Homo sapiens: one gene and its partners. The protein of the gene in region 2 interacts with the protein of the main gene of each other region in a biochemical or structural test. Each region holds a gene or a part of one and is shown on either strand. Other genes may lie near its edges. The genes, in order: FARSA, ECSIT and FBXL12.

Region 1 (7,109 bases), 1.4 Mb from region 2:
CAGGCTAATTTTTATATTTTTAGTAGAGATGAGGTTTCGCCATGTTGGCCAGGCTGGCCTCGAACTCCTGTCCTCAGGTGATGCACCTGCTTCAGCCACCCACAGTGCTTGGATTACAGGCATGTGCCACCACGCCTGGCCTGTTTTTATTCTTTGTAGAGGCGGAGACTTGCTCTATTGCCCAGGCTGATCTCAAACTCCTGGCTCAGGCGATCCTCCTGCCTTGGCCTCCCACAGCACTGGGATGACAGGCATGAGCTACCACGCCTGGCCTGATGTACTTGTTGGTCTTGCTAGTTATCATCCTTCTCGCTCCACTGGGACCCCAGATTCAGAGGGAGGGACATAAGCTGTCATGTTCACAGCACGGGGCTGAGCATTCAGTTTGTACTCACGATGAAAGTTTTGTCCATTGGATGAATGAATGGGTGGTGCTGAAACCACGCAGGCCCCTATACCTGGAGAGTTATTTGAGGCAGCTGGACACCCCGAGTTTCCACTTGGGCACTTACCGCTCCAGGGAGAGGCCCCAGGCAATGACCGACACGTTCTCGGGAAGCCCCATGGGCAGCAGCATCTCTGGACGGAAGACCCCCGAGTTTCCGACCTCCACCCACTTCTTCAGGCCTGCAGAGGCAGGACAGAAAAGACGGGCAGTGCGTGTTGAGTTTCTGGGCACTGCTGGTACAGGTTCTGGGTCTAGGTGGTGAGCTTGGGAGGTGGGGTACAGGCATGGCAATGGGGGGACCCAGGCCAAACCATAGTAGCCTGAGACCTCCCTCCCACCCCAGTACCAGGGCCTACCCTGACCTTGGTGGTAGCTGAACACCTCCATGCTGGGCTCTGTGTATGGGTTGTAGGCTGGCTTGAAGCGGAGTTGCGTGATACCTGCAGGAAGTGGGGGGCGGGCAGGAGAGCAGGGGTTTGGAGGATAATGCTGGTGATCAACACACCTGCCCGCTGCCTCACCACCATGGCCCACCCCTGCCCCCCTGCTCACCCAGCTTGGTGAAGAACTCCCGCAGAACGCCCATGAGGTGGCCCAAGGTGAGACCATGATCCGCCACCACGCCCTCGATCTGGTGGAACTCAGCCAGGTGCGTGGCGTCCAGGGTCTCATTCCGGAATACGCGGTCGATGGAGAAGTACTTGACCGGAGTGAAGGGCTTCTAGGGGTGACAACCGAGCCAGGCCCAGGTATGGGTCAGAAGGTCCCTTTGACAGCACCCTCTCCCCACTGGGGCCCCCGCCTGGGCCAACCGCACCTTCTGGGCAAGGCGGTAGAGCGCACGGGCGCTGGCTGATGTGGTGTGGGTTCGCAGTAGGTTTTTCCGGGCCTCGTCCAGCTTCCAGTTATACTTGTACCTTCAGGAGGGAAGGTGGGAAGTCCATGCAATGGCCCAGGGGTCCCCAGCCTCCTTCCCTTCCATACCAGGTAAGTCCTGCCTCACCCCTGTGAGCCGTAGCCGCCCTGAGAGTGGGTCCGCTTGACCCGCTGGACATAGTCCATTGGGAGCTGCAGGGCCTCCGCTGGATCTGGGCAGGACAGAGCAACATCAGGTCAGTCAACGAGCATTTCCCACCCCTTTTTTTTTTTCAGACAGGGTCTCACTGTTGTCCAGGCTGGAGTGCGGTGGTGCAATCTGGGCTTACTGCAACCTCTGCCTCCCAGGTTCAAGTGATTCTCGTGCCTCAGTTTTCTCATTTGTGTGTGGCTTTTTTGGGTTCTTTTTTTTTGAGACAGAGTCTTGTTCAGTTGGCCCAGCTGAAGTACAATGGCTCAATCTTGGCTCACTGCAACCTCCACCTCCCAAGTTCAAGCAATTCTCCTGATTCAGCCTCCCAAGTAGCTGGGATTACAGGTGCCTGCCACCACACCCGGGAAATTTTTGTATTTTTAGTAGAGATGGGGTTTCGCCATGTTGGTCAGGGTGGTCTCGAACTCCTGATCTCAGGTGATCCACCCACCTCGGCCTCCCAGTGTTGGGATTACAGGCATGAGCCACTGCACCTGGGCTTTATTTATGTATGTACGTATGTATGTATGTATTTTGAGATGGAGTCTTGCTCTGTTGCCCAGGCTGGAGTGCAGTGGCATGATCTTGGCTCACTGCAACCTCCTCCTCCCAGGTTCAAGCAATTCTCCTGCCTCAGCCTCCCAAGTAGCTGGGATTACAGAAGTGCACCACCACACACAGCTAATTTTTTATATTTGGTAGACGTGGGGTTTCACCATGTTGGCCAGGCTGGTCTCGAACTCCTGACTTCAAGTGATCCGCCTGCCTGGGCCTCCCAAAGTGCTGGGATCATGCCACCGCGCCCGACCTTTTTATTTTTTCTTTTTTTTTGAGACGGAGTCTCGCTCTGTCGCCCAGGCTGGAGTGCAGTGGCGCGATCTCGGCTCACTGCAACCTCTGCCTCCCAGGTTCGAGTGATTCTCCTGCCTCAGCCTCCTGAATAGATGGGACTACAGGCACACGCCACCATGCCCAGCTAATTTTTGTATTTTTAGTAGAGATGGGATTTCACCATGTTGGCCAGGATGGTCTCGATCCACCCACCGTGGCCTCCCAAAGTGCTGGAATTACAGGCGTGAGCCACCGCGCCCGGCCTATTTTTTTTTTTTAAAGGGACAAAATTTTTTTTTTTTTTAGACGGAGTCTCGCTCAGTCACCCAGGCTGGAGTGCAGTGGCATGATCTCGGCTAACTGCCAGCTCCGCCTCCAGGGTTCACACCATTCTCCTGCCTCAGCCTCCCGAGTAGCTGGGACTACAGGCGCCCGCCACTATGCCTGGCTAATTGTTTTTGTATTTTTGGTAGAGACGGGGTTTCACTGTGTTATCCAGGATGGTCTTGATCTCCTGACCTCGCGATCCGCCCGTCTCAGCCTCCCAAAGTGCTGGGATTACAGGCGTGAGCCACCGCGCCCGGCCTAAAGAGACAAAGTCTTGCTCTGTTGCTTGGCCTGCAGTGCAGTGATGCAATCATAGCTCACTGCAGCCTCAAACTCCCAGGCTCAAGCAATCCTTCACCTCAGCCTCCCGAGTAGCTGCAACTACAGGCGTGCACTACTATGCCCAGCTAATTTTATTTGTACAGATGGGTCTTTCTATGTTGCTTAGGCTGTTCTCAAACTCCTGGGCTCAAGCGATCCTCCTCCCTTGCCCTCCCAAACAGTGGGATTATACCCACTGAGGCTGGCCAAGTTTCCTTCTTTGTAAAAAGGGGTAACAGTACTGCTTCCAGTAGTTGGCAGGAAGATTAGAATAGTGGCTAGTATGTGATGAGTGCTTAGTAAGTTTTGGGTGCTATGACAATAATGACAAGAATGATGTTGCTCCTCTGGCCAGGTAAGCCGGCACCCAATGACCTCAACTGCCCTCTTGGTCAGGAAGGCCACCCCATTGTGGGAAGTCATTCCATTTCAGACAGTGCTAAGGGCAATGAAAGAAAGAAATGGGACAGAAGAATGAACACTAGGGGAGAAGGGCTTCTGTAGAACTCGGGGTGAGCCCGGGAGTGTTAGGCTGGCCTGTCTCTGGTGACACGTGAGCAGAGATTTGAGGCTGCAGCCTGCCTTGAAGATCTGGGAGAAAACAGCTCTTGGCTAAAGACGGAACATAAGCAAAGGCCCTGAGGTGTGCACGGCCTGGAATGCCCAAAGAAGACATGGGGGCAGGCAGGGTGTGGGGGCTCATGCCTGTAATCCCAGCACTTTGGGAGGCTGAGGCAAAACTGTTTGAGATCAGGAGTTTGAGACCAGCCTGGGCAACATAGTGAGAACAAAACAAAACAAAAATTCATTAATTTTGGGCTAGGCGTGGTGCTCACGCCTGTAATCCTAGCACTTTGGGAGGCTGAGGCGGGAGTATCACTTGAGGTCAGGAGTTCCAGACCAGCCTGGCCAACATGGCAAACCCCATCTCTATTAAAAACACAAAAATTAGCCGAGCGTGGTGGCGGGTGCCTGTAATCCCAGCTACTCAGGAGGCTGAGGCAGGAGAATCGCTTGAACCCAGGAGGTGGAAATTGCAGTGAGCTGAGATCGTGCCACTGCACTCTAGCTTGGGCGACAGAATGAGACTGTCTCAAAAAAAAAAAAAAAAAAAAAAAAAAGCCAGGTGCGGTGGCTCACGCCTGTAATCCCAGCACTTTGGGAGGCCGAGGCAGACTGGAGTTTGAGACCACCCTGGCCAACATGGCAAAACTCCATCTCTACTAAAAATACAAAAATTAGCTGGGCATGGTGGTATGCACCTGTAATCCCAGCTACTCGGGAGGCTGAGGCAGGAGAATCGCTTGAACCTGGGAGGCAAAGTTTGCAGCGAGCCAAGATCATGCCACTGCACACTCCAGCTTGGGCGACAGAGTGAGACCCTGTCTCAAAAAAAAAAAAAAAAAAAAAAAAGACTGCAGGTGGCATAATGAGAACAGAGCTTGACACATCCAACAAGGATGGACTTTAATTTAACTCAATTAATTTTTTTAGAGGTAGATTCTTCCCTATGTTGCCTGAGCTGGATTTGAACTCCTGGGCTCATGCAATCCTCCTGCCTTGGCCTCCCAAATAGCCGGACTACAGGTGCACACCACCATGCCCAGTTCTAGACCTAATTTGATCAAATGGGATGCCCATCCTGTAAAGGCTCCGCCGTGGCCTGGTGTCTCTCATGTCTCAGGGAGGCCCTAGGGGCTGACCCACCTCGAAGGAAGAAGGTGTCGTGCTGGTCACGGGCTGGGTGCTGCTGGGGCTGGAAGAGGGCGTCAAAGTTCCAGAAGGAGCTCTCAATGAAGTTATCAGTCGGCATCTCGGTGAACCTGGTGGGAGACACAGCCTGACTGCCCTGCCTGTACCCAGCAGAAGCACCAGGCACCGCCCCCAGCCCTGTGCTCACCCCATCTCCAGGAAGATCTGTCGGAACTGGGAGCGGACCTTGAGCAGCGGGTGAAGGTGGCCGCTGTCGGGGAGGACACCGTGGGCCAAGAAGTTGTAGGGCTTGAAGGGCCGGTCCCGCCAAGAGCCACTGGGGGAGGATGCAAGGGCCTGGTAAGGGCTGCCCGCCCCTGCCCCCTGCCCCAGCTCCCACCTGCCCTGACCCTGGGGTTGCCTGCTACCTGGAGATCATCTCTGGGCTCAGCTCTGTCTCTTGCTTGGAGATGCTGGTACTAAAGGCACTGCCTTTGCTCACCCAGTAGGTCTTCAGAGTCCTGTGGCCAGGGGAAGGAAGGGGACGCCACTGCCATCTCCTCCTAGAGGACTTCCTTGATCTCCCGTCTGATGAGGATCCCCATGCTACCTACCAAGTCACTCTGCTTTATTTCCATCCTGACATTTATCACTACCTGAAATCCTCCTATGTGACCATGCTGTATCTCCCTGTATTCACTCACTGATTCATTCAACACTTACTGAGAACCTAATGTGTGCCAGGGTCTGTTCAAGGTGCTAAGTACACGACTGAGTGATGATACTAGGGAAAGTCTAGCAGATTTATTCTGTGCCAGGCTCTGTTCTGCAAAAGTCTCCCCACAAGCCCCGGAAAGAGGGCAGTTTTTTTTATTTGTTTGTTTGTTTTCCTTTTTTGAGACAGAGTTTTGCTCTTGTTGCCTAGGCTAGAGTGCAATGGCACGGTCTCAGCTCACTGCATCCTCCACCTCCCAGATTCAAGCGATTCTCCTGCCTCAGCCTCCAGAGTAGCTGGGATTACAGGCACCCGCCACCACACCCGGCTAAGTTTTGTATTTTCAGTAAAGACGAGGTTTCACCATGTTGGCCAGGCTGGTCTCGAACTCCTGACCTCAGGTGATTTGCCCGCCTCGGCCTCCCAAAGTGCTGGGATTACAGGCATGAGCCATCGTGCCTGGCCCCTTTTTCTTTGAGATGGGGGTCTCTCTATGTTGCCCAGGCTGGCCTTGAATTCATGGATTCAAGTGATCCTAACACTTCAGCCTCCTGAGTAGCTGGGATTACACACGTGAGCCACACACTTGGCCCAGGCTATTTTATAGATAAGGAAACGGAGACCAGCAAAGGCCAGGTGACTTGGCCAAGGTCATAAAACTAGTTAAGTGACAGAGCCCGAACTTCAGTTAGGCATCCCAGCTCTAGTCTCTTCTCTCTGCCACTCTGTGTCTGCTCAAAGGGGACATTTGTCCTGTGAGAGGACGGCCCCTAGCCCATCTAGGTTCCAGAGGCCTGTCTGGTGTGTGTTCATTAAACTTTGGACCACACTAAGGACAGTGAAAGAAATGAACAAGCACCAAAGATGAAGACTAGGGGCGATGGGCTTCATGGAACTCAAGGGGAGAGGAGGGCTGTCAGGGTGGCCTCTTTAAGGGGACACAGGAGAGAGACTTGATGAGGAGCCTATCTTGAAGATCAGAGGGAAAACAGTTCTCAGCAGAAGGGTCCTCATGGGCAAAGACCCCAAGGCACGTAGGCTTGACAACTATGGCATTAAGCGAGCTGGGAGGAAACTGGCCACACCTGTGCTTGGTGTGGGCAAGATGTCTCCCTCCCACCATGCCTCCACCATGCTTCGCAGGTGGTGGGGGCCTGAGCCTGCAGGGGGCACCCACTCACACTTCAGCCAACAGCTTCCTCTTCCTCAGCTCGCTCCTCTCCTTCTCCCCCAGCTTCTCAGCCTGTCCCCCCCGGACCAGCTGGAGCCGCCGCTGCACCTCATCCTCCATGCTGTCCACCTGCCAGGATAAGGAGTGTGAGGGGTATGAGGGCCAGGGGCCCATGTGCCCGTCCACCTGCCCCCTGACCAGCCCGCAGGAACGCACCACTCGGAACACCCGGGGCCCGTCAGCCGCACTCTTGTCCACCCGAATCCACTTGTTGGACATGGCCTTGCTGAAGCCCACTTTGCCACTGGGCAGTCGCTGGAAAAGAGAGGCTGCAGTGAGTGGGGCACGAGGGCCACCTTCATCCCATCACTCACTCCCCATTCACCCCGCAGCTCCTACCATAAGCTCGCTCTGGGCCAGGCCCTCTGGGGGAATGCTTCGAAACACACGGGCCTCATGGCTGCCCTCCCGGGCAATCTCCTCGCCCTCCGCAGTAAGCTCCCAGTGCTTGGTGGACCGAAGTTCAGCCTCGATG
Region 2 (6,815 bases):
TTTTGTATTTCTTGTAGAAATGGGGTTCCACCATGTTGCCCAGGCTGGTCTCAAACTCGTGAGCTCAAGCGATCCACCCACCTTAGCCTCCCAAAGTACTGGGATTGCAAGCATGAGCCACCATGCCTGGCCCCCTCAGACCTTTGTTTGTTTGTTTTTTTTTTGAGATGGAGTCTCGCTCTGTCGCCAGGCTGGAGTGCTGTGGCGCCATCTCAGCTCACTGCAACTCTGACTCCCGGGTTCAAGCGATTCTCCTGCCTCAGCCTCCCAAGTAGCTGGGATTACAGGCATGCACCACCAGGCCCAGCTAATTTTTGTATTTTTAGTAGAAACGGGGTTTTACCATGTTGGCCAGGCTGGTCTTGATCTCCTGACCTCATGATCTGCCCACCTCGGCCTCCCAAAGTGCTGGGATTACACGCGTGAGCCACTGTGCCCGGCCAAGACCTTTTTTATAAGGGGACTAATCTCATTCATGAAGGCAGAGCCCTTATGATCTAAGTGCCTCTCCTCTCAAAGGCCTGACCTCTTAATCCTATTGCATTGTAGATAGATTGCAACATATGAATTTCAGGGGGCCATAAACATTCAGACCATAGCACCCTCCCATCCTTCTCCCAACACTTGCTACATTCTAGGCATCTTCCTTATTTTCTGTGCCAATTCTCACCACAGGGCTTTGCGTTCTCTGTTCCTTCTGCCAGGAACACTGTTCCCCATGGACTTCATGTTATTCCGGTCTCAGCTCCACTGTTCCTAATCAGGATGCCCTTCCTGACCTCCCTGGCCAAGGCACCACCCCTTCACCGTGCTTGGCTTGGTTCCTCATTCACCATGACTCAGTCTCCCTCCTGTCTCCCAAGGCTGAGCACAGGATTTGGTGCAAAGCTGACACTTGGCAGTGGTTTGTTGAATGACTGAGTGGAGTAACACCCTCAACTCAGTGTCCTGGGAGCCCCCACTCATGCCAGATCACACAAGGGATCCAAAGAGAGCCCCTCACAGCACTTGTCATGTGGTCCTGGACAGATAACAGTTTCCTTAAGAGCCAGTGGTTCTGAGATGGAGAAGCCCGGGGTGCTGTGGGAGCCGAGTGGGCAGGTGGGGCTTCCTGGGGGAGGTAAGGAGAGCAGAGGACGCTGGGCAGAGGGAGCAGTGTGTACCAGGAAATGCGGTGCAGTGAGTGGGGGCACCTGATTAAAGAGCTTGATCTCAAACCTCTTGGTTGGTGGGGAGAGCTATGCCGGGGGTGGGGGGGCAGAGATTTAAGAAGAAGGAATCGGGTTGGAATCATGTTTCTGGAAGAATCTGCAATTGGAAACGTGTCTCCTGGCAGCCGTGTGGATGCTGTTGGATGGGGAGAGGGGCTAGGGGACCAGGGTCGTGGGTCCAGGTGAGAGATGGCTTGAGACCAGCAGCAGAATGTGGGGGGGAGGGTTGTTTTTAGTTCATTTCTTCATTTTGCAAAGCAATGCACTAAAAAGCCAAACAGCATGTAAAAGCACACAGTGACGAGTCCTCTGCTTCTACCCAGGCCCCGTGCGCTGCCCCTGACGCCGCCCGTCTCCCTCCCCAGAGGTGACTATTTCCATGTCTCCTTCCAGAGAGGTTCTATACATTTGCAAGCAGATCTCTCTCTCTCTCTCTCTTTTTTTTTTTGGCATCTGTATCCTTTGTATTTAAATATCCTTCTCCCCCGTCTTATGGAGTAAAATACAGCCAGGCACAGTGGCTCATGCCTGTAATCCCAGCACTTTGGGAGGCTGAGGCAGATGGATTGCTTGAGCCCAGGAGTTCGAGACCAGCCTGGGCAACATGGCAAGACCCCATCTCTACCAAAAAAATACGAAAATTAGCTGGGAGTGGTGGTGCACACCTGTAGCCCCAGCTACTCAGGAGGCTGAGGCAGGAGGGTGGCTTGAACTCAGGAAGTCAAGTCTGTAGTGAGCCGTGATCATACCACTGCACACCAGACTGGGTGACAGAGCAAGATCCTGTCTGTTTAAAAAAAAGAAGTTCTTTAGCCAGGCATGGTGGCTTACGCCTGTAATCCCAGCACTTTGGAAGGCCGAGGCAGGCAGATCACCAGAGGTTGGGAGTTCGAGACCAGCCTGACCAACATGGAGAAACCTCGTCTCTACTAAAAATACAAAAAGAATTATCCAGGCATGGTGGTGCATGCCTGTAATCCTAGCTACTTGCGAGGGTGAGGCAGGAGAATCACTTGAACCCAGGAGGTGGAGGTTGCAGTGAGCCGAGATCGCGCCATTGCACTCCAGCCTGGGCAACAAGAGCGAAACTCCATCTCAAAAAAAAAAAAGTTTCTTTAGTAGCAGGGCATTATATACATGTACCTTGCCTTTTACAAATTTCATTTAATACAACTAGAAGTCACTGATCCATCTCAAATTTTTTTGTTGTTTTTTTGAGACAGAGCCTTGCTCTGTCGCCCATGCTGGAGTGCAGTGGCACAATCTCGGCTCACTACAACCTCCTCCTCCCAGGTTCAAGCAATTCTTGTGCCTCAGCCTCCCATGTAGCAGGGACTACAGGCGTGTGCCACCACGCCTGGCTAATTTTTGTATTTCTAGTAGAGACGGGGTTTCACCATGTTGGCCAGGCTGGTCTTGAACTCCTGGCCTCAAGTGATCCACCACCCTCGGCCTCCCAAAGTGCTGGGATTACAGGCATGAGCCACTGCGCCCGGCCTGCTCATCTCAATTTTTTTTAACTTGAAAGGATGAATGATATATGTTCTAATAGCTGTCCACTGTTTTGTTTCAAAAGCAAGTGCATTTTGTTAAAAAAAAAAAAACTTTGTCAGCGGGGCGCAGTGGCTTATGCCTGTAATCCCAATGCTTTGGGAGGCTGAGGCAGGTGGATCACCTGAGGTTGGGAGTTTGAGACCAGCCTGACCAACATGGAGAAACCCTGTCTCTACTAAAAATACAGACATTAGCCAGACGTGGTGGTGCATGCCTGTAATCCCAGCTACTCGGGAGGCTGAGGCAGCAGAATCACTTGAACCCAGGAGGTGGAGGTTGCGGTGAGCTGAGATCAAGCCCCATTGCACTCCAGCCTAGGCAACAAGAGCGAAACTCTGTCCCAAAAAAAAAAAAAAAAAATTGTCTAGTGTTTTTGAATTATGTTCAAGGTATAAAATTTTAAAAGATAAAAAAGGTATTCCTTCCCACCCTGTCCTCCACAGAGGTGAAAGCTATCATTTGCTTCTAGTGTCTCCTTCCTGGGATATTCTGTATATGTGAAGTTATTTTTCTTTTTTTAATTCACAAGCACTGAGCACTTATTATTTGCCAGGGACTGTGCTACATATTTTACAACCACCCAAAGTTAGGTTCATGCCCATAATCCTAGTGCTTTGGGAGGCCAAGGCAGGCGGATCACCTGAGGCCAGGAATTTGAGACCAGCCAGGCCAACATAGCAAAACCCTATCTCTACTAAAAATACAAAAAATTAGCCGGGCATGGTGGCAGGCGCCTGTAGTCCCAGCTACTTGGGAGGCCGACGCAGGAGAATCGCTTGAACCCAGGAGGCGGAGGCTATAGTGAGCCGAGATCATGCCATTGCACTCCAGCCTGGGTAATGAGCAAAACTCCATTTCAAAAATTAAAAAAATAAAATTAGCCAGGCATAGTGGTGTGCACCTGTAGACCCAGCTACTTGGGAGACTGAGGTAGGAAGATCACTTGAGCCCAGGAGTTCAAGGCTACAGTGAGCTATGATCATGCCACCATTCTCCAGCATGGATGACAGAGAGGGAGACCCCCATCCCTAAAAAAAAAAAAAAAATCGGAATTAAGTGCTGTTATCATCCCTATTGTGCATCTGGAGAAACTGAGGCACACAGGTACAGTGACTTGGCCAAGGTCACACAGCTTGTGACAGAGCCAGGATTTTGACAAAGGTGGGCTGGTTCTAGGGTAGTTCCCTCAGGGTGAGCATCCTAAAGATTGGTGGTTATTGCCAAATGGGACAGAGGGAGGAGGGGACAGGTTGGAGGGCCGTGTACCAGATCCAGGAGAGGTGTCCTGAATTCCCTGGTATCCCCCTTTCTGTTTCTCTGTCCCCAGTTCCTCTGTAGGGGATTGGGGGTTACAAGATTATATCCCTACTCTCCCTTGCAGGTTCCTTTGCCCAAAGACTCAACAGGTGCAGCAGATCCCCCCCAGCCCCACATCGTAGGTAAGTCCGAGAGCATGGGGGCAGCCAAGTCTCTAACCTTACCCAGGCCCTGCCAGGTTCTCGCTGGGCCTAGGCTGGGCTCCCTGGGCCTCTGGGCCGAGTCCCTTGCAGGGCACAGGGCATGTATGTCTCCACACCAGGAATCCAGAGTCCCGATCAGCAGGCCGCCCTGGCCCGCCACAATCCAGCCCGGCCTGTCTTTGTTGAGGGCCCCTTCTCCCTGTGGCTCCGCAACAAGTGTGTGTATTACCACATCCTCAGAGCTGACTTGCTGCCCCCGGAGGAGAGGGTGAGGGCTTAAAGCAAAGCATGTGTTGGGGCTGGGGAGTGGGCTGGCACTACCCTGAGGGTGCATGGGAGAGGCTGGAGGAGGGAGACCGAGAGAGCCCTGGCCTCTGACCCCGCCTGCACTCCCCACCTTGGAGTAGGAAGTGGAAGAGACGCCGGAGGAGTGGAACCTCTACTACCCGATGCAGCTGGACCTGGAGTATGTGAGGAGTGGCTGGGACAACTACGAGTTTGACATCAATGAAGGTAAAAACTGGGCCAGGTGCGGTGGCTCACATGTGTGCTCGTAATCCCAGCCCTCCTACAGGCTGAGGTGGGAGGATCACTTGAGCCCAGGAGTTGAGGTTGCAGTGAACTATTATAGAGCCACTGCACTCCAGCCTACATGATAGACCCTGTGTCAAAAAAAAAAAAAAAAAAGGCAAAAACCTGGACAGGCAGGACTTCCAAACATTCCAAACACCACCCAGGATGAGGGGCGGCCTCTGGGGTCAAGGGGTAGGCCCAGGCTGAGACGCAGTCCACTTACACCCTCGTCCTCCGGCCGCACACACTCATTTGCCCCAGGGGCTCCAGACCTGAGGTCACCCAGCCCTGTTGGCCCTTGTTCATTCCCTCCCTCCTACAACTCTGTGCTGGCTACTGGGTGTCACCAGGACAAACCTAGTCCCTCGAGTCAGCAAGGGAACAGGCAAATTACACTTTGGGGAGCTTAGGAGAGGAGCATGCCTTGAGTGGGGGGTCAGGAGGCCTTCCTGGCAGAATACAGAAAAACCAGGAGTCATCGCCCGGGTGAAGTGTGGAGTGGGCAGCCTAGGCAGCGGGGCTAGCTTGTGCAAAGGTTTGGAGGCACAAGAAAGTGGAAGGAAGCCGGGCACAGTGGCTCACGCCTGTAATCCCAGCACTCTGGGAGGCTGAGGCGGGTAGATCATTTGAGGTCAGGAATTCGAGACCAGCCTGGCCAACATGGTGAAACCCCATCTCTACTAAAAATTTAAAAATTAGCCCGGCGTGGTGCTGTGCACCTGTAATCCCAGCTCCTCGGGAGGCCGAGGCAGGAGAATCACTTGAACCTGGGAGGCGGATGTTGCAGTGAGCCGAGATCTCGCCACTGCACTCCAGCCTGGGTGACACAGCGAGACTCCGTCTCAAAAAAAAAAAAAAAAAAAAAAAGGAAGTGGAAGGGAGTGTAAAATACCTCAAAAAGGTGTAGGCATGGGTTAGCCGCTGCAGCCCCCACTGTGCAAACCTTAAGGGTGCATGTCTTCCAACAGTGGAGGAAGGCCCTGTCTTCGCCATGTGCATGGCGGGTGCTCATGACCAGGCGACGATGGCTAAGTGGATCCAGGGCCTGCAGGAGACCAACCCAACCCTGGCCCAGATCCCCGTGGTCTTCCGCCTCGCCGGGTCCACCCGGGAGCTCCAGACATCCTCTGCAGGGCTGGAGGAGCCGCCCCTGCCCGAGGACCACCAGGAAGAAGACGACAACCTGCAGCGACAGCAGCAGGGCCAGAGCTAGTCTGAGCCGGCGCGAGGGCACGGGCTGTGGCCCGAGGAGGCGGTGGACTGAAGGCATGAGATGCCCTTTGAGTGTACAGCAAATCAATGTTTTCCTGCTTGGGGCTCTCTTCCCTCATCTCTAGCAGTATGGCATCCCCTCCCCAGGATCTCGGGCTGCCAGCGATGGGCAGGCGAGACCCCTCCAGAATCTGCAGGCGCCTCTGGTTCTCCGAATTCAAATAAAAAGGGGCGGGAGCGCTGTTGGTTGTGCGCATGCGCAGTTTCCATTCTTGGTCTCCTTTTGGCGCCCTGGGGCAGCGAGAGACCGTGAGAAATTTCTCGGCGGCGCCGAAGATGCGCGCCACTTCCGGTCTGGCTCCTAACAACGGGGGAGGCTGGTAACCAGGGTGGGGGGGATGGCGGAGCGGGCGCTAGAGCCCGAGGCGGAGGCGGAGGCTGAGGCGGGCGCGGGCGGGGAGGCAGCAGCCGAGGAGGGCGCAGCGGGCCGAAAGGCGCGGGGCCGGCCGCGACTCACGGAGTCGGACCGGGCCCGGCGACGGCTCGAGTCCCGGAAGAAGTACGACGTGCGGCGCGTGTACCTGGGCGAGGCGCACGGGCCCTGGGTGGACCTGCGGCGCCGCAGCGGCTGGAGCGACGCCAAGCTCGCCGCCTACCTCATCTCTCTGGAGCGCGGCCAGCGGAGCGGCCGCCACGGGTGAGGGGGCCTGGCCCCGAGGGAGGGAGGGAGGAGACGCCCCCAGACCCCGCCGGGCTTTACCCCGCCCCCTCCGCTTCTAGGGCCAGCCCCCGGCACCTGCGGACC
Region 3 (6,419 bases), 1.7 Mb from region 2:
TGACCCTGGTGTACTGGCTCAGAGTCTCCAAAATTACAACATGGTGGCCGAGCGCAGTGGCTCACACCTGTAATTCCAGCACTTTGGGAGGCCGAGGTGAGCAGATCACGAGGTCAGGAGTTTGAGACCAGCCTGACCAACATGGTGAAACCCCATCTCTACTAAAGATACAAAAATTAGCTGGGCGTGGTGGCGGGTGCCTGTAATCCCAGCTACTTGGGAGGCTGAGGCAGGAGAATCACTTGAACCCGGGAGACGGAGGTTGCAGTGAGCCAAGATCGCACCACTGCACTCCAGCCTGGGTGACAGAGTGAGACTCTGTCCCCACACAAAAAAACTAAAGCATGGACTGGCTTACCTGTTTGTTGTCCTGTCTTCTCCTCTATGAGATCTACGAGGGCAGGGTCTTGTCAGTTTTGTTCACTGTGGTGGCCCAGTTTCCCAGAACCTAGAACAGTGCCTGCAAAATAGCAGAAGCTCAAGAAAGATTGGTTGAATGAATAAACTGAATACTTCTCGGGAAAAAAAAATGATTTTTTTCTTTAATAGTAAAATAATATACGTCTTGGAAAATACAGCATACAAAATACAGAAAATATAATTGAGCACTTTTATGAGCATATCGATCATTGAATCGCGAGTCTGCATCGCCTATCTCTCCGCGTCTCTTGCGTGCGTGTAGGTATATAAATGGTGTATAGGCTTGTGGGTGTGCATGCATAGACAGTCCTTCTTGGGTACTCATAAGGGGGCTCAGACCCTCAGGTGCCCCTGAGTCTTAACCCCACCCCTTCTTCATCCGTCCTGTTCCTGAAGACGACCATGAAGGTGACTCTTCATTGAGAGCCTCTGGAGGCTGGGAGCTTTTAGAGTAAGGCTTTGCAATGTAACCGTGAGGTAGCTATGATCATCCTTATTTCCAGATGTGGGAACTAGGCTTCCCAGAGGCTGATGATATGACCAAGGCCACACAGCTGGCAAACAGTGATTCCAATGGTCTGGAGGTCCCTAGGCCTCTGTTCTCTCAACCTGGGGCTTTCAGTTTCCTCAAGTCTGATTATCTGCCCTCTTCAAGGTGCTGCTCAGAGGGTCTGGGGCTCAATGATGAAAACTGGGATGGGTCCCAAGGGCAGGTGGAGTAGTTACATCCACCAGTCCATAGACTCTTTGGGGCAAGCCCTGACGATGACCATACAGTGGGGCAGCCCCTTACACAGGATCTTCTCCGCCTCCTGACCCTCCCACCCCAGCCCCTGCAGCTCAAGGACTCTGAGCTTGGGCATAGTGAGGCAGGAGGAGAGGATTTCAGTGGGGGAGGGCATTTCTGGGGTGACGAGGGGACCCTGCAGGCACAGACTCTCCAGGGCCGGCATTCCCTCCAGCACAGCCAGGCCAGGGGCAGAGAGGCCCCTCACGGTCAGCCGGATCTTGCGCACATCTCGGAGGTGGCGGCTGATGGCCAGCAGGGTGCTGTCGGCAGACAGGGTGCAGCCCAGCACCTCAAGCCTCTGCAGATAGCTGAGCTCCTGCAGGCCAGCATCCAGCCCTGTCTCGGTCACACGGTAGGTACCACCCAGCACCAGCGAGCGCAAGGCCCGGAAGCGCGTCAGGCCCTGCAGGTGCTCGTCACGGAAGGCGGGGACGCGGTCCAGCACGATGCATTCAAGCAGGGGCAGCACGGTGGGGTCCTGCTGCTTGTGGAGCCAGGCCATGGAGATCTCGCAGCTGTGCAGCTCCAGGGTCCTCAAGGTGCTGGGCAGGCTGGTGATGGGCACCATGCTCAGGTCGGCCACGTGCAGGCAGAGGCGCTTCAGGTTGGGGCACTTCTGGCCCAGGGCTCTCAACAGAGCAGGGGACAACTGGGGGGCCTGGGAGCCAGAGAACAGGTAGCCACCCATCCGCAGGGAATGGAGCCGGGATGCCATGTACCTTCGAAGGAGGTGCCACATGACTTTAGGTCGCATCTGTAAGAGCCAGAGATTGGGGTGACAGAGTGAGAGGTATGGAGCTTCCAAGGCCCCTGCTGGGCTGGAGACACACAACCCCGGGGTGGGGGATTCTGGTGCCCTGCTGGGCTTCTGCCCTTGCCTAGCCAGTCTCCTCCCCAGGTTCAACCTCCCCAGGTTCAACCAGATGGTTTGAGTGCACCATCTTGCCTGCTAGGGCTTTGAACAAATCTTTTTTTTTTTTTTTTTTTCTGAGACAGGTTCTTGCTCTGTCACCCAGTCTACAGTGCAGTGGTGAGATAATGGCTCACTGCAGCCTGGACCTCCTAGGCTCAAGTGATTCTCCCACTTCAGCTTCCCAAGTGGCTGGGACTTCTGACACATGCCCAGCTAATTTTTGTGATTTTTAGTAGAGATGAGGTCTTGCTATGTTGCCCAGGCTGGTCTCCAACTCCTGGATTCAAGCAATCCTCCCATCTCAGCCCCTCAAAGTGCTGGGTCTACAGTCGTGAGCCACTGCACTCGGCCACTTAGAATAAATCTGGTAGGGGCTGGGCACAGTGGCTCATGCCTGTAATCCCAGCACTTTGGGAGGCTGAGGTGGATGGATCATTTGAGGTCAGGAGTTTAATACCAGCCTGGCCAACATGGTGAAACCATGTTTCTACTAAAAATACAAAAATTAGCTGGGCGTGGTGGCAAGCACCTGTAATCCCAGCTACTCAAGAGGCTGAGGCAAGAGAATCACTTGAACCCAGGAGACAAAGGTTGCAGTGAGTCGATATCGCACCACTGCACTCCAGCCTGGGCGATAGAGTGAGACTCTGTCTCAAAAAAAAAAAAAAAAAAAAAAAAAGATAAATCTGGTAGGGGAAAAAAAGATACTAACAGAATCTATCTTTAGCAATAAATTTTTACCGTTTTTTCTGGACTAAGAAAAAGAGCAGAGCAACCCATTGATATTTTACCCCTTTCTTAATGATCACCTCCAGTAGAAATAAGCAACACAGAATAAAATTTTAAAAGCCGAAAACTACCCAGAGTAAATTAGGTCTATGTTAAAAAAAAAAAAAAAAAAACAACAAATGAAAAGGCTGGGCACGGTGGCTCACACCTGTAATCCCAGCACTTTGGGAGGCCAAGGCGGGCAGATCACCTGAGGTCAGGAGTTCAAGACCAGCCTGACCAACATGGAGAAACCCCGTCTCTACTAAAAATACAAAATTAGCCAGGTGTGGTGGTGCACGCCTGTAATCCCAGCTACTTGGGAGGCTGAGGCAGGAGAATCACTTGAACCTGGGAAGCAGAGGCTGCGATGAGCCAAGATCGTGCCGTTGCACCAGCCTGGGCAACAAGAGCGAAACTCCATGTCAAAAAAAAAAATATATCAAAGCCTGGTAGAGTGGAAGCTGCAAAAATCAACCCTGGGAAGTTAGACTTAGTAGAAAATAAAAAATATATATAATTGATAGCACTGGGCATTTCATTCTAAGTACAGTTTATCTTAAAAAGAAAAAGTTAGCATGCTTACATCTGCCTTTTATTGCTGGATTTCTCTACTTGGCATCATAGGGCCTAATGGAAAAAGGAAAATTGTCTAATAACATATTCTTTATGTGTGCTTACAAAGGTGTTTCTTTTCTTTTCTTTTTTTTTGAGACGGAGTTTTGCTTGTTGCCCAGGCTGGAGTGCAATGGCACGATCTCAGTCACCGCAACCTCCGCCTCCTGGGTTCAAGCGATTCTCGTGCCTTAGCCTCCTGAGTAGCTGGGATTACAGGCATGTGCCACCATGCCCGGCTAATTTTTTTTTTTTTTTTTGAGACAGAGTCTCGCTCTGTTGCCCAGGCTGGAGTGCAGTAGCGCAATCTCGGCTCACTGCAATCTCCACCTCCCAGGTTCAAGCAATTCTCCTGCTTCAGCCTCCCAAGTAGCTGGTACTACAGGCGTATGCCACCATGCCCGGCTATGTTTTTTTTGTATTTTTAGTAGAGACGCGGTTTCACCATGTTAGCCAGGATGGTCTCAATCTCCTGACCTCGTGATCCAACCACCTTGGCCTCCCAAGGTGCTGGGATTACAGGCATGAGCCACGCGCCTGGCCTTAATTTTGTATTTTTAGTAGAGACAGGGTTTCTCCATGTAGGTCAGGCTGGTCTCAAACACCCGACCTCAAGTGATCTGTCCACCTCGGCCTCCCAAAGTGCTGGGATTACAGGCATGAGCCACTGCACCCGGCCAAAAAGGTGTTTCTACATCAAACTCTTCCATTCACTGAAGAAAATAGCTTATCATCAATCCTTCAGAAAGCATGCTTACATTTGCCTTTTATACATGCATATATATACCCATGTAATACAAACTGTATTAGTCTATTTTCATGCTGCTGATAAAAACATACCTGAGACTGGGAAGAAAAAGAGGTTTAATTGGACTTACAGTTCCACATGGCTGGGGAGGCCTCAAAATCATGGCAGGAGGTGAAAGGCACTTCTTACATGGCGGCAGCAAGAGAAAATGAGAAAGAAGCCCGGGCGCAGTGGCTCATGCCCATAATCCCAGCACTTTGGAAGGCCGATGCGGGCGGATCACGAGGTCAGGAGATTGAGACCATCCTGGCCAACATGACAAAACCCCGTTTCTACTAAAATACAAAAAAAAATTAGCCGAGTGTGGTGGTGCATGCCTGTAGTCCCAGCTACTAAGGAGGCTGAGGTAGGAGAATCGCTTGAACACGGGAGGCAGAGGTTCCAGTGAACTGAGATCGCACCACTGCACTCCAGCCTGGTGGCAGAACAAGACTCCGACTCAAAGAAAAATAAATAAATTAATTTAAAAAATACAAAAAATTAGCTCAGTGTGGTGGCACGTGCCTGTAGTCCCAGCTTCTCAGGAGGCTGAGGCAGGGGAATCACTTGAACCCAGGAGGCAGAGGTTGCAGTGAGCTGAGATCATACCACTGCACTCCAGCCTGGCAACAGAGCAAGACTCCATCTCAAAAAAAAAAAAAAAAAAAAAATTAAGAAAACGAGAACAAAGCAAAAATGGAAACCCCTGATAAACCCATCAGATCTCTTGAGATTTATTCACTATCACGAGAATAGCATGGGAAAGACCAGCCCCCAAGATTCAATTATTTCCCCTGGGTCCCTCTCACAACACATGGGAATTCTGGGAAATACAATTCAAGTTGAGATTTGGGTGGGGACACAGCCAAACTATATCATTCCACCCCGGCCCCTCCAAGTCTCATGTCTTCACATTTCACAACCAATCATGGCTTCCCAACAGTCTTCCAAAGTCTTAACTCATTTCAGCATTAACCCAAAAGTCCACAGTCCAAAGTCTCATCTGAGACAAGGCAAGTCCCTTCCACCTATGAGCCTATAAAATCAAAAGCTAGCTAGTTACTTCCTAGATACAATGTGAGTACAGGTATTGGGTAAATGCAGCCATTCCAAATGGGAGAAATTGGCCAAAACAAAGGGGTTACAGGGCCCATGCAAGTCTGAAATCCAGTGGGGCAGTCAAATTTTAAAGCTCCAAAATTATCTCCTTTGATTCCAGGTCTCACAACCAGGTCACACTGATGCAAGAGGTGGGTTCCCATGGTCTTGGCCAGCTCCGCCCCTTGTGGCTTTACAGGGTACAGCCTCCCTCCCAGCTGCTTTCACAGGCTGGTGTTGAGTGTCTGAAGCTTTTCCAGGTGCATGGTGCAAGCTGTGGGTGGATCTACCATTCTGGAGTCTGGAGAACAGTGGCCCTCTTCTCACAGCTCCACTAGGCAGTGACCCAATAGGGACTCTGTGTGGGGGCTCTGACCCCACATTTCCCTTCCACACTGCCCTAGCAGAGGTTCTCCATGAGGGCCCCACCCCTGTAGCAAACTTTTGCCTGGACATCCAGGCATTTCCACACATCTTCTGAAATCTAGGCAGAGGTTCCTAAACTTCAATTCTTTTTTTTTTTTTTTGAGATGGAGTTTCGCTCTTGTCACCCAGGCTGGAATGCAATGGCACGATCTTGAGTCACTGCAACCTTTGCCTCCCGGGTTCAAGCGATTCTCCTGCCTCAGCCTCCCGAGTAGCTGGGATTACAAGCATGCGCCACCACGCATTTGTTGTATTTTTAGTAGAGATGGGGTTTCACCATGTTGGCCAGGCTGGTCTTGAACTCCTGACCTCAAGTGATCCGCCTGCCTTGGCCTCCCAAAGTGCTGGGATTATAGGCGTGAGCCACTGTGCCTGGCCCTGAACCTCAGTTCTTGGCTTCTGTGCACCAGCAGGCTCAAGACCATGTGGAAGCTGCCAAGACTTGGGGCTTCCACCCTCTGAAGCCACAGCCCGAGTTATACGTTGGCCCCTTTCAGCTACAGCTGGAGCAGCTAGGGCACAGGACACCAAGTCCCAGGGTGAACATAGCACAGGGACCCTGGGCCCCCAGGAAACCACTTTTTCCTCCTGGGCTTCCAGGC

What was found.
Region 1: the proteins of ECSIT (region 2) and FARSA form a complex in vitro, tested with the Homo sapiens proteins (one study listed by BioGRID and IntAct).
Region 3: the proteins of ECSIT (region 2) and FBXL12 form a complex in vitro, tested with the Homo sapiens proteins (one study listed by BioGRID).

The regions. Positions count from the first base shown.
Region 1 is NC_000019.10:12,923,639-12,930,747, forward strand, and holds part of FARSA (phenylalanine--tRNA ligase alpha subunit), read right to left. Parts: coding exon 6,974-7,109; intron 6,909-6,973; exon of another isoform or gene 6,890-6,908; coding exon 6,791-6,889; intron 6,704-6,790; coding exon 6,585-6,703; intron 5,210-6,584; coding exon 5,117-5,209; intron 5,026-5,116; coding exon 4,897-5,025; intron 4,820-4,896; coding exon 4,704-4,819; intron 1,537-4,703; coding exon 1,452-1,536; intron 1,366-1,451; coding exon 1,266-1,365; intron 1,170-1,265; coding exon 1,001-1,169; intron 889-1,000; coding exon 811-888; intron 628-810; coding exon 513-627; intron 1-512.
Region 2 is NC_000019.10:11,505,380-11,512,194, reverse strand, and holds the end of ECSIT (evolutionarily conserved signaling intermediate in Toll pathway, mitochondrial isoform 1 precursor), read left to right. Parts: intron 1-4,146; coding exon 4,147-4,204; intron 4,205-4,344; coding exon 4,345-4,493; intron 4,494-4,632; coding exon 4,633-4,738; intron 4,739-5,766; coding exon 5,767-6,011; 3' UTR 6,012-6,266; downstream 6,267-6,815. Other genes in the region: ZNF653 (zinc finger protein 653), read left to right, coding at 6,409-6,707.
Region 3 is NC_000019.10:9,809,754-9,816,172, forward strand, and holds the end of FBXL12 (F-box/LRR-repeat protein 12), read right to left. Parts: exon of another isoform or gene 4,418-6,419; coding exon of another isoform or gene 4,385-4,417; intron 3,522-4,384; exon of another isoform or gene 3,478-3,521; intron 1,965-3,477; coding exon 1,143-1,964; 3' UTR 517-1,142; downstream 1-516. UniProt on the Homo sapiens protein: Substrate-recognition component of the SCF (SKP1-CUL1-F-box protein)-type E3 ubiquitin ligase complex.